2 linked regions of the Homo sapiens genome follow. The protein of the gene in region 1 purifies or fractionates together with the protein of each later gene. This does not show direct contact. Each region holds a gene or a part of one and is shown on either strand. Other genes may lie near its edges.

Evidence for each region.
Region 2: the proteins of CX3CR1 (region 1) and ITGB3 purify together in Homo sapiens (co-immunoprecipitation; one study listed by IntAct). This does not show direct contact.

What each region holds. Positions count from the first base shown.
Region 1 is NC_000003.12:39,261,933-39,266,946, reverse strand, and holds the end of CX3CR1 (CX3C chemokine receptor 1), read left to right. Parts: intron 1-428; coding exon of another isoform or gene 429-437; coding exon 438-1,505; 3' UTR 1,506-3,451; downstream 3,452-5,014. UniProt on the Homo sapiens protein: Receptor for the C-X3-C chemokine fractalkine (CX3CL1) present on many early leukocyte cells; CX3CR1-CX3CL1 signaling exerts distinct functions in different tissue compartments, such as immune response, inflammation, cell adhesion and chemotaxis.
Region 2 is NC_000017.11:47,308,908-47,313,921, forward strand, and holds the end of ITGB3 (integrin beta-3 precursor), read left to right. Parts: intron 1-1,231; coding exon 1,232-1,297; 3' UTR 1,298-4,836; downstream 4,837-5,014. UniProt on the Homo sapiens protein: Integrin alpha-V/beta-3 (ITGAV:ITGB3) is a receptor for cytotactin, fibronectin, laminin, matrix metalloproteinase-2, osteopontin, osteomodulin, prothrombin, thrombospondin, vitronectin and von Willebrand factor.

The sequences.
Region 1 (5,014 bases):
CCAGGCGTGGTAGTGCACGCCTATAATCCCAGCTATTTGGGAGGCTGAGGCAGGAGAATCGCTTGAACCCCAGGGGACAGAGGTTGCAGTGAGCTGAGATCGCACCACTGCACTCCAGCCTGGGTGACACAGCGAGACTCCATTTAAAAAAAAAAAAATGCCTAGAGCCAAATGCTCACAGAGCCATTTACTGCATGGCTTTGGGCAAGTCAAAGGAGTCCGCCTCTCCTGTCAGAAGAGTCTGTTGCAGTCTTCATCACAAGACTGTTGTGGGGATTAAACAAGATGGCAAGTGGGAAGTTGGGAAATGTAGTGTGCACCCAACCAATATTTGTTTCTTCCTGCCTGCCTACATATGAGGCCACACAGAATTCCAACTTTGTTTCTCTGATAACTAACACAGTTACTTGTTTTTCTTTCTGATCCAGGCCTTCACCATGGATCAGTTCCCTGAATCAGTGACAGAAAACTTTGAGTACGATGATTTGGCTGAGGCCTGTTATATTGGGGACATCGTGGTCTTTGGGACTGTGTTCCTGTCCATATTCTACTCCGTCATCTTTGCCATTGGCCTGGTGGGAAATTTGTTGGTAGTGTTTGCCCTCACCAACAGCAAGAAGCCCAAGAGTGTCACCGACATTTACCTCCTGAACCTGGCCTTGTCTGATCTGCTGTTTGTAGCCACTTTGCCCTTCTGGACTCACTATTTGATAAATGAAAAGGGCCTCCACAATGCCATGTGCAAATTCACTACCGCCTTCTTCTTCATCGGCTTTTTTGGAAGCATATTCTTCATCACCGTCATCAGCATTGATAGGTACCTGGCCATCGTCCTGGCCGCCAACTCCATGAACAACCGGACCGTGCAGCATGGCGTCACCATCAGCCTAGGCGTCTGGGCAGCAGCCATTTTGGTGGCAGCACCCCAGTTCATGTTCACAAAGCAGAAAGAAAATGAATGCCTTGGTGACTACCCCGAGGTCCTCCAGGAAATCTGGCCCGTGCTCCGCAATGTGGAAACAAATTTTCTTGGCTTCCTACTCCCCCTGCTCATTATGAGTTATTGCTACTTCAGAATCATCCAGACGCTGTTTTCCTGCAAGAACCACAAGAAAGCCAAAGCCATTAAACTGATCCTTCTGGTGGTCATCGTGTTTTTCCTCTTCTGGACACCCTACAACGTTATGATTTTCCTGGAGACGCTTAAGCTCTATGACTTCTTTCCCAGTTGTGACATGAGGAAGGATCTGAGGCTGGCCCTCAGTGTGACTGAGACGGTTGCATTTAGCCATTGTTGCCTGAATCCTCTCATCTATGCATTTGCTGGGGAGAAGTTCAGAAGATACCTTTACCACCTGTATGGGAAATGCCTGGCTGTCCTGTGTGGGCGCTCAGTCCACGTTGATTTCTCCTCATCTGAATCACAAAGGAGCAGGCATGGAAGTGTTCTGAGCAGCAATTTTACTTACCACACGAGTGATGGAGATGCATTGCTCCTTCTCTGAAGGGAATCCCAAAGCCTTGTGTCTACAGAGAACCTGGAGTTCCTGAACCTGATGCTGACTAGTGAGGAAAGATTTTTGTTGTTATTTCTTACAGGCACAAAATGATGGACCCAATGCACACAAAACAACCCTAGAGTGTTGTTGAGAATTGTGCTCAAAATTTGAAGAATGAACAAATTGAACTCTTTGAATGACAAAGAGTAGACATTTCTCTTACTGCAAATGTCATCAGAACTTTTTGGTTTGCAGATGACAAAAATTCAACTCAGACTAGTTTAGTTAAATGAGGGTGGTGAATATTGTTCATATTGTGGCACAAGCAAAAGGGTGTCTGAGCCCTCAAAGTGAGGGGAAACCAGGGCCTGAGCCAAGCTAGAATTCCCTCTCTCTGACTCTCAAATCTTTTAGTCATTATAGATCCCCCAGACTTTACATGACACAGCTTTATCACCAGAGAGGGACTGACACCCATGTTTCTCTGGCCCCAAGGGCAAAATTCCCAGGGAAGTGCTCTGATAGGCCAAGTTTGTATCAGGTGCCCATCCCTGGAAGGTGCTGTTATCCATGGGGAAGGGATATATAAGATGGAAGCTTCCAGTCCAATCTCATGGAGAAGCAGAAATACATATTTCCAAGAAGTTGGATGGGTGGGTACTATTCTGATTACACAAAACAAATGCCACACATCACCCTTACCATGTGCCTGATCCAGCCTCTCCCCTGATTACACCAGCCTCGTCTTCATTAAGCCCTCTTCCATCATGTCCCCAAACCTGCAAGGGCTCCCCACTGCCTACTGCATCGAGTCAAAACTCAAATGCTTGGCTTCTCATACGTCCACCATGGGGTCCTACCAATAGATTCCCCATTGCCTCCTCCTTCCCAAAGGACTCCACCCATCCTATCAGCCTGTCTCTTCCATATGACCTCATGCATCTCCACCTGCTCCCAGGCCAGTAAGGGAAATAGAAAAACCCTGCCCCCAAATAAGAAGGGATGGATTCCAACCCCAACTCCAGTAGCTTGGGACAAATCAAGCTTCAGTTTCCTGGTCTGTAGAAGAGGGATAAGGTACCTTTCACATAGAGATCATCCTTTCCAGCATGAGGAACTAGCCACCAACTCTTGCAGGTCTCAACCCTTTTGTCTGCCTCTTAGACTTCTGCTTTCCACACCTGGCACTGCTGTGCTGTGCCCAAGTTGTGGTGCTGACAAAGCTTGGAAGAGCCTGCAGGTGCTGCTGCGTGGCATAGCCCAGACACAGAAGAGGCTGGTTCTTACGATGGCACCCAGTGAGCACTCCCAAGTCTACAGAGTGATAGCCTTCCGTAACCCAACTCTCCTGGACTGCCTTGAATATCCCCTCCCAGTCACCTTGTGGCAAGCCCCTGCCCATCTGGGAAAATACCCCATCATTCATGCTACTGCCAACCTGGGGAGCCAGGGCTATGGGAGCAGCTTTTTTTTCCCCCCTAGAAACGTTTGGAACAATCTAAAAGTTTAAAGCTCGAAAACAATTGTAATAATGCTAAAGAAAAAGTCATCCAATCTAACCACATCAATATTGTCATTCCTGTATTCACCCGTCCAGACCTTGTTCACACTCTCACATGTTTAGAGTTGCAATCGTAATGTACAGATGGTTTTATAATCTGATTTGTTTTCCTCTTAACGTTAGACCACAAATAGTGCTCGCTTTCTATGTAGTTTGGTAATTATCATTTTAGAAGACTCTACCAGACTGTGTATTCATTGAAGTCAGATGTGGTAACTGTTAAATTGCTGTGTATCTGATAGCTCTTTGGCAGTCTATATGTTTGTATAATGAATGAGAGAATAAGTCATGTTCCTTCAAGATCATGTACCCCAATTTACTTGCCATTACTCAATTGATAAACATTTAACTTGTTTCCAATGTTTAGCAAATACATATTTTATAGAACTTCCATCTGTGTAATCTTCTTTCTCCTATTCAATTATTTCCTGTGGTTAAATTCATTGCCATGGGGAAAACTGAGTCAAAGGGCATGGGAACACATTATCTTTGCATACACACATATGAAAGTCATATATTACACAACCTTTACTGAGTCGTATTATATACAAAACATGAACGCAGATCCAGAGCTATTCCAAAGGCAATGAGACCAAGCCTCTTCCCTCAATAATTTAAATGCAGAAGAGAAGTGAAGGAATAATCACGCTTTGCATTAGGTGGTAGCAGAGGAGTACTACGTGACTTCTGACCTGCGTCTTTAAGGGACAGGGGTTCTCCAGGTAAAGAAAGAGGTGGCATTCCAGGCTGAGGAAACAGCATGTATAAAGGAAGTGTGTGAGAGCCACAATGTGAGAAAACTCTGTGCGAATATTAAAAGGCGTTAGAAGCGGAGTGGGTGGTAGGAACTTTCTGAGCTGAGCTGTTAGCTGTGGGCTGAGCTAAAACAACCAATGGAGGGGGTGCTGGTTCTCCTCAGGGTGTTTACGGGGTTTCTTCGTTATTACCTGATCCTCATTCCAACTGTTGAACCATAAGACTTTTAATTAAAGTTTAACCTATTCCTGGACTTCTAAGAAGGAGGAAATAATTATTTTGGCTTGAGAAATAAAAGAAGAGAAATAAACACTTTCATTTCTAGAAGAAAATTAAATTTGTAACATTAGGAACCTATATTTATTCATTCATTTTGCTGAATAGGACAGAATAGGGAGAAAATAAGGAAGCTCATTGAAAAATCCAAAATAGCAAGGATGTTGGTGTCTAAATAAAGGAAGGCATTTTTGGAAAGGACAGCTGGCCCTCAGAGCACACCTGAATCAGACCCACTCCTGCTTCTGAGGTCTGGGCTTCCCAAGAGCAGAGGGATCTGCCTGTGATGAATCCCGACATATTAACTCTCTGCTTCGGCAGGTTGCTTAACATCTCTGAGGCTCAATCTCCTCATCAGAAAAATAAAGATAAAAGTAGTTCCCACCTGGTAGGGTTGGAGCAGAGGATTCAGTAAGATTACCCCTGCAAAGATCACAGTGCAGAACTGGCAAAGCAAGCTCGAGTGAATGGTGGTGATTATTTTTATACTTATTATTTTTAATATTAGACTGAGCTTTCCCCAGCAACTAAACACATGCTATCTTGTACTTGCCTTTTGCTTTTCTTAGTAGCAGAATCACAGACTCTTGGGTGGTTGGAGATAACTGGGTCCAAATCCACATTTCGTGGGTAAGAAAATGGAGGCTCAGAGAGGGCCAGCAGGTGCCCCAAGATGCCACAGTGAATTACTGGGAGAGGTAGATCCTTGATTCACAGTCTACCATCTCCTTCCTCATCTTGATAAAAATACAGATCAATCTGACCTCTAAGAGCAGAGAACACAGAAGGAAGGTCTGCAGGCAGATAATGAGGCAGGGAAAAGCAGCCCACAAGATAGCTGAAGAGTTTAACAGAATCAATCTGCACATGGACAGGTGTGTGCTGTGTGGCACAGCCTTTGGCAATTGCCTTTTGGAGACAT
Region 2 (5,014 bases), on another chromosome or scaffold:
TGGATAGTGCTTTCTCTTTCTCTCCCCTCCTCTCCCATTCCCTCCCCTCCCCTCCCCTCTCCTCCCCTCCCCTTCCTTTTACGCTTCCTCCCCTCCCCTTCCCTTCCTCCCCTCCTCTCCTTTTCTTTCCCTTCCCTTCCCTCCTTCCTTCTTTTTTTGAGACAGGGTCTCGCTCTGTCACCCATGCTGGAGTGCAGTGGTGCCATCATGGCTCAATGCAGCCTCCATCTCCTGGGCTCAAGTGATCCTCCCACCTCACCCTCCCAAGTAGCCAGGACTACAGGCACACATCACCGAGCCAGCTAATTTTTGTATTTTTTTCCCTTGTAGAGACAGGGTCTCACTCTGTTACCCAGGCTGGTCTAGAACTCCTGGGCTCAAGTGATCTTCCTACCTTGGCCCCTAAAAGTGCTGGGATTATAGGCATAAACCACCATGCCTGGCCATGGTTAGTGCTTGGCCAGATTAGATGAAAACAAATTAATAATTATTTGAGCAAAAGCTTTCCTCTGTGTTCTGAATTGCACCTGATACATTTCTGTCCCTTGTCCACATCTCCTATCACTGTCACAGGGAATGGAAAATAGGAGAAGGGCAAAAGAGACGGGGACACAGGGGTGAAATAGGAGAGGTTCTATCCCCGAATGCTGTGGAATCACTGAAGAGTGATAGGCTGAATATAGCTCCTTAGAAATAGTGGCAGGGAACAGGTGTGGTGGCTCATGCCTGTAATTCCAGCACTTTGGGAGGCTGAGGCAGGTGGATCGCTTGAGCTCAGGAGTTTGAGACCAGCCTGGGCAACATGAAGAAACCCCATCTCTACAAAAAAATGCAAAAATTAGCCAGACATGGTGGTGTGTGCCTGTAGTCCCAGCTACTTGGGAGGCTGAGGTGGGAGGATGTCTTGAGTCAGGGGAGGTGGAGGTTTCAGTAAGCCGAGATTGTGCCACTGCACTCCAGCCTGGGCAACAAAATGAGACCCTGTCTGAAAAAAAAAAAAAAAAAAAGAAACGGTGGCAGGATGGCATTCTACCTCATCTCCTCCTGTTATTTCCTATCAATTCCCATGCCAAGAACTAAAGTGTGAGCAAAATGAACATTATTCTGTTTCATTGATGATGTATTCCAGAGAACGGTGCCTTGGGAAAACTTCTGAGATGAATTTTAAACATTCAGGGTAGGGAAGGACTTAAGGAAGTCACTGTAAGATGCTATTCTGTTTCCTCCACAGGCCAACAACCCACTGTATAAAGAGGCCACGTCTACCTTCACCAATATCACGTACCGGGGCACTTAATGATAAGCAGTCATCCTCAGATCATTATCAGCCTGTGCCACGATTGCAGGAGTCCCTGCCATCATGTTTACAGAGGACAGTATTTGTGGGGAGGGATTTGGGGCTCAGAGTGGGGTAGGTTGGGAGAATGTCAGTATGTGGAAGTGTGGGTCTGTGTGTGTGTATGTGGGGGTCTGTGTGTTTATGTGTGTGTGTTGTGTGTGGGAGTGTGTAATTTAAAATTGTGATGTGTCCTGATAAGCTGAGCTCCTTAGCCTTTGTCCCAGAATGCCTCCTGCAGGGATTCTTCCTGCTTAGCTTGAGGGTGACTATGGAGCTGAGCAGGTGTTCTTCATTACCTCAGTGAGAAGCCAGCTTTCCTCATCAGGCCATTGTCCCTGAAGAGAAGGGCAGGGCTGAGGCCTCTCATTCCAGAGGAAGGGACACCAAGCCTTGGCTCTACCCTGAGTTCATAAATTTATGGTTCTCAGGCCTGACTCTCAGCAGCTATGGTAGGAACTGCTGGGCTTGGCAGCCCGGGTCATCTGTACCTCTGCCTCCTTTCCCCTCCCTCAGGCCGAAGGAGGAGTCAGGGAGAGCTGAACTATTAGAGCTGCCTGTGCCTTTTGCCATCCCCTCAACCCAGCTATGGTTCTCTCGCAAGGGAAGTCCTTGCAAGCTAATTCTTTGACCTGTTGGGAGTGAGGATGTCTGGGCCACTCAGGGGTCATTCATGGCCTGGGGGATGTACCAGCATCTCCCAGTTCATAATCACAACCCTTCAGATTTGCCTTATTGGCAGCTCTACTCTGGAGGTTTGTTTAGAAGAAGTGTGTCACCCTTAGGCCAGCACCATCTCTTTACCTCCTAATTCCACACCCTCACTGCTGTAGACATTTGCTATGAGCTGGGGATGTCTCTCATGACCAAATGCTTTTCCTCAAAGGGAGAGAGTGCTATTGTAGAGCCAGAGGTCTGGCCCTATGCTTCCGGCCTCCTGTCCCTCATCCATAGCACCTCCACATACCTGGCCCTGTGCCTTGGTGTGCTGTATCCATCCATGGGGCTGATTGTATTTACCTTCTACCTCTTGGCTGCCTTGTGAAGGAATTATTCCCATGAGTTGGCTGGGAATAAGTGCCAGGATGGAATGATGGGTCAGTTGTATCAGCACGTGTGGCCTGTTCTTCTATGGGTTGGACAACCTCATTTTAACTCAGTCTTTAATCTGAGAGGCCACAGTGCAATTTTATTTTATTTTTCTCATGATGAGGTTTTCTTAACTTAAAAGAACATGTATATAAACATGCTTGCATTATATTTGTAAATTTATGTGATGGCAAAGAAGGAGAGCATAGGAAACCACACAGACTTGGGCAGGGTACAGACACTCCCACTTGGCATCATTCACAGCAAGTCACTGGCCAGTGGCTGGATCTGTGAGGGGCTCTCTCATGATAGAAGGCTATGGGGATAGATGTGTGGACACATTGGACCTTTCCTGAGGAAGAGGGACTGTTCTTTTGTCCCAGAAAAGCAGTGGCTCCATTGGTGTTGACATACATCCAACATTAAAAGCCACCCCCAAATGCCCAAGAAAAAAAGAAAGACTTATCAACATTTGTTCCATGAGCAGAAAACTGGAGCTCTGGCCTCAGTGTTACAGCTAAATAATCTTTAATTAAGGCAAGTCACTTTCTTCTTCTTAAAGCTGTTTTCTAGTTTGAGAAATGATGGGATTTTAGCAGCCAGTCTTGAAGGTCTCTTTCAGTATCAACATTCTAAGATGCTGGGACTTACTGTGTCATCAAATGTGCGGTTAAGATTCTCTGGGATATTGATACTGTTTGTGTTTTTAGTTGGGAGATCTGAGAGACCTGGCTTTGGCAAGAGCAGATGTCATTCCATATCACCTTTCTCAATGAAAGTCTCATTCTATCCTCTCTCCAAACCCGTTTTCCAACATTTGTTAATAGTTACGTCTCTCCTGATGTAGCACTTAAGCTTCATTTAGTTATTATTTCTTTCTTCACTTTGCACACATTTGCATCCACATATTAGGGAAGAGGAATCCATAAGTAGCTGAAATATCTATTCTGTATTATTGTGTTAACATTGAGAATAAGCCTTGGAATTAGATATGGGGCAATGACTGAGCCCTGTCTCACCCATGGATTACTCCTTACTGTAGGGAATGGCAGTATGGTAGAGGGATAAATAGGGGGCGGGGAGGGATAGTCATGGATCCAAGAAGTCCTTAGAAATAGTGGCAGGGAACAGGTGTGGAAGCTCATGCCTGTAATTATAACCTTCAGCTACTAAGACAGGTGTGGTGGCTCACGCCTGTGATTATAATCTTCAGTTACTAAGACAGAGTCCATGAGAGTGTTAATGGGACATTTTCTTTAGATAAGATGTTTTATATGAAGAAACTGTATCAAAGGGGGAAGAAAATGTATTTAACAGGTGAATCAAATCAGGAATCTTGTCTGAGCTACTGGAATGAAGTTCACAGGTCTTGAAGACCAATATTATTTGTCAATATGTGGGGATAACCTGTAGCTGCATTCATGAGGTAGCAAATAGCAGTTTTGGCCTGTGGGGTGAACAGCTAAACAGTGTTCTGGCATCAGATAACACGGCACAAAGGGATTGTGTCTAGCTCTTTTGGAGAAAATTTATGTCCAGTCTCAGGATCTGTGGACAATAACGGAAAACTTTGAATATTCCTGACAAGTTGCCATATTAGGAGTCAGTTCTTTACTTCTCTGAGATTCCCAGGTCATCCATGATTTTTTTTTTAATTTGAGACAAAGCCTCACTCTTGTTGCCCAAGCTGGAATGCAATGGCAAGATCTCAGTTCACTGCAATCTCTGCCTCTCAGGTTCAAGCCATTCTCCTGCCTCAGCCTCCCCAGTAGCCGGGATTACAGGCACCCGCCACCACACCCGGCTAATTTTTGTATTTTTAGTAGAGACGGGGTTTCACCATGTTGGCCAGGCTGGTCTCGAACTCCTGACCTTAGGCGATCCACCTTCCTCGGCCTCCCACAGTGCTGGGATTACAAGTGTGAAGCACTGTGCCCGGCCAGTCATCCATGATTTTAATGGGGTCCAAAGGCCTCTTTTTCTTTGTTAAGTATTCCTGGTTGAAATTTCTTTTCTTTTTTTTTTTTTTTTTGAGACAGAGTCTTGCTCTATCACCCAGGCTGGAGTGCAGTGGCACGATCTCTGCTCACTGCAAGCTTCGCCTCCCGGGTTCACGCCATTCTCCTGCCTCAGCCTCCCGAGTAGCTGGGATTACAGGCACCTGCCACCACGCCCGGCTAATTTCTTTTTGTATTTTTAGTAGAGACGGGGTTTCACGGTGTTAGCCAGGAAGGTCTCGATCTCCTGACCTCGTGATCCTCCCGCCTCGGCCTCCCAAAGTGCTGGGATTACAGGCGTGAGCCACTGCCCCCGGCTGTGGTTGAAATTTCTTAAGTGCCTTCCTCACTTCCTAACCACCTTCTCTGTTTGGGTTTGTGCAACAGTAAATTAAATGTACTTTCCAAAAAGAATTGGCCTAAGGCTGCTCAGTGCTTCCTGTGTTGTTATTTCTGTTTCCTTTGGATGAAAAGAATAGGTGTCATTGACTCAGAAATGATTATTTTAGAACAAGCATGTTTCCAAATGTAACAGAATGATGACTACTATGGGTACTGAAGCTAGCTTCAGAATCCAGAGCTTCTCTTTAGA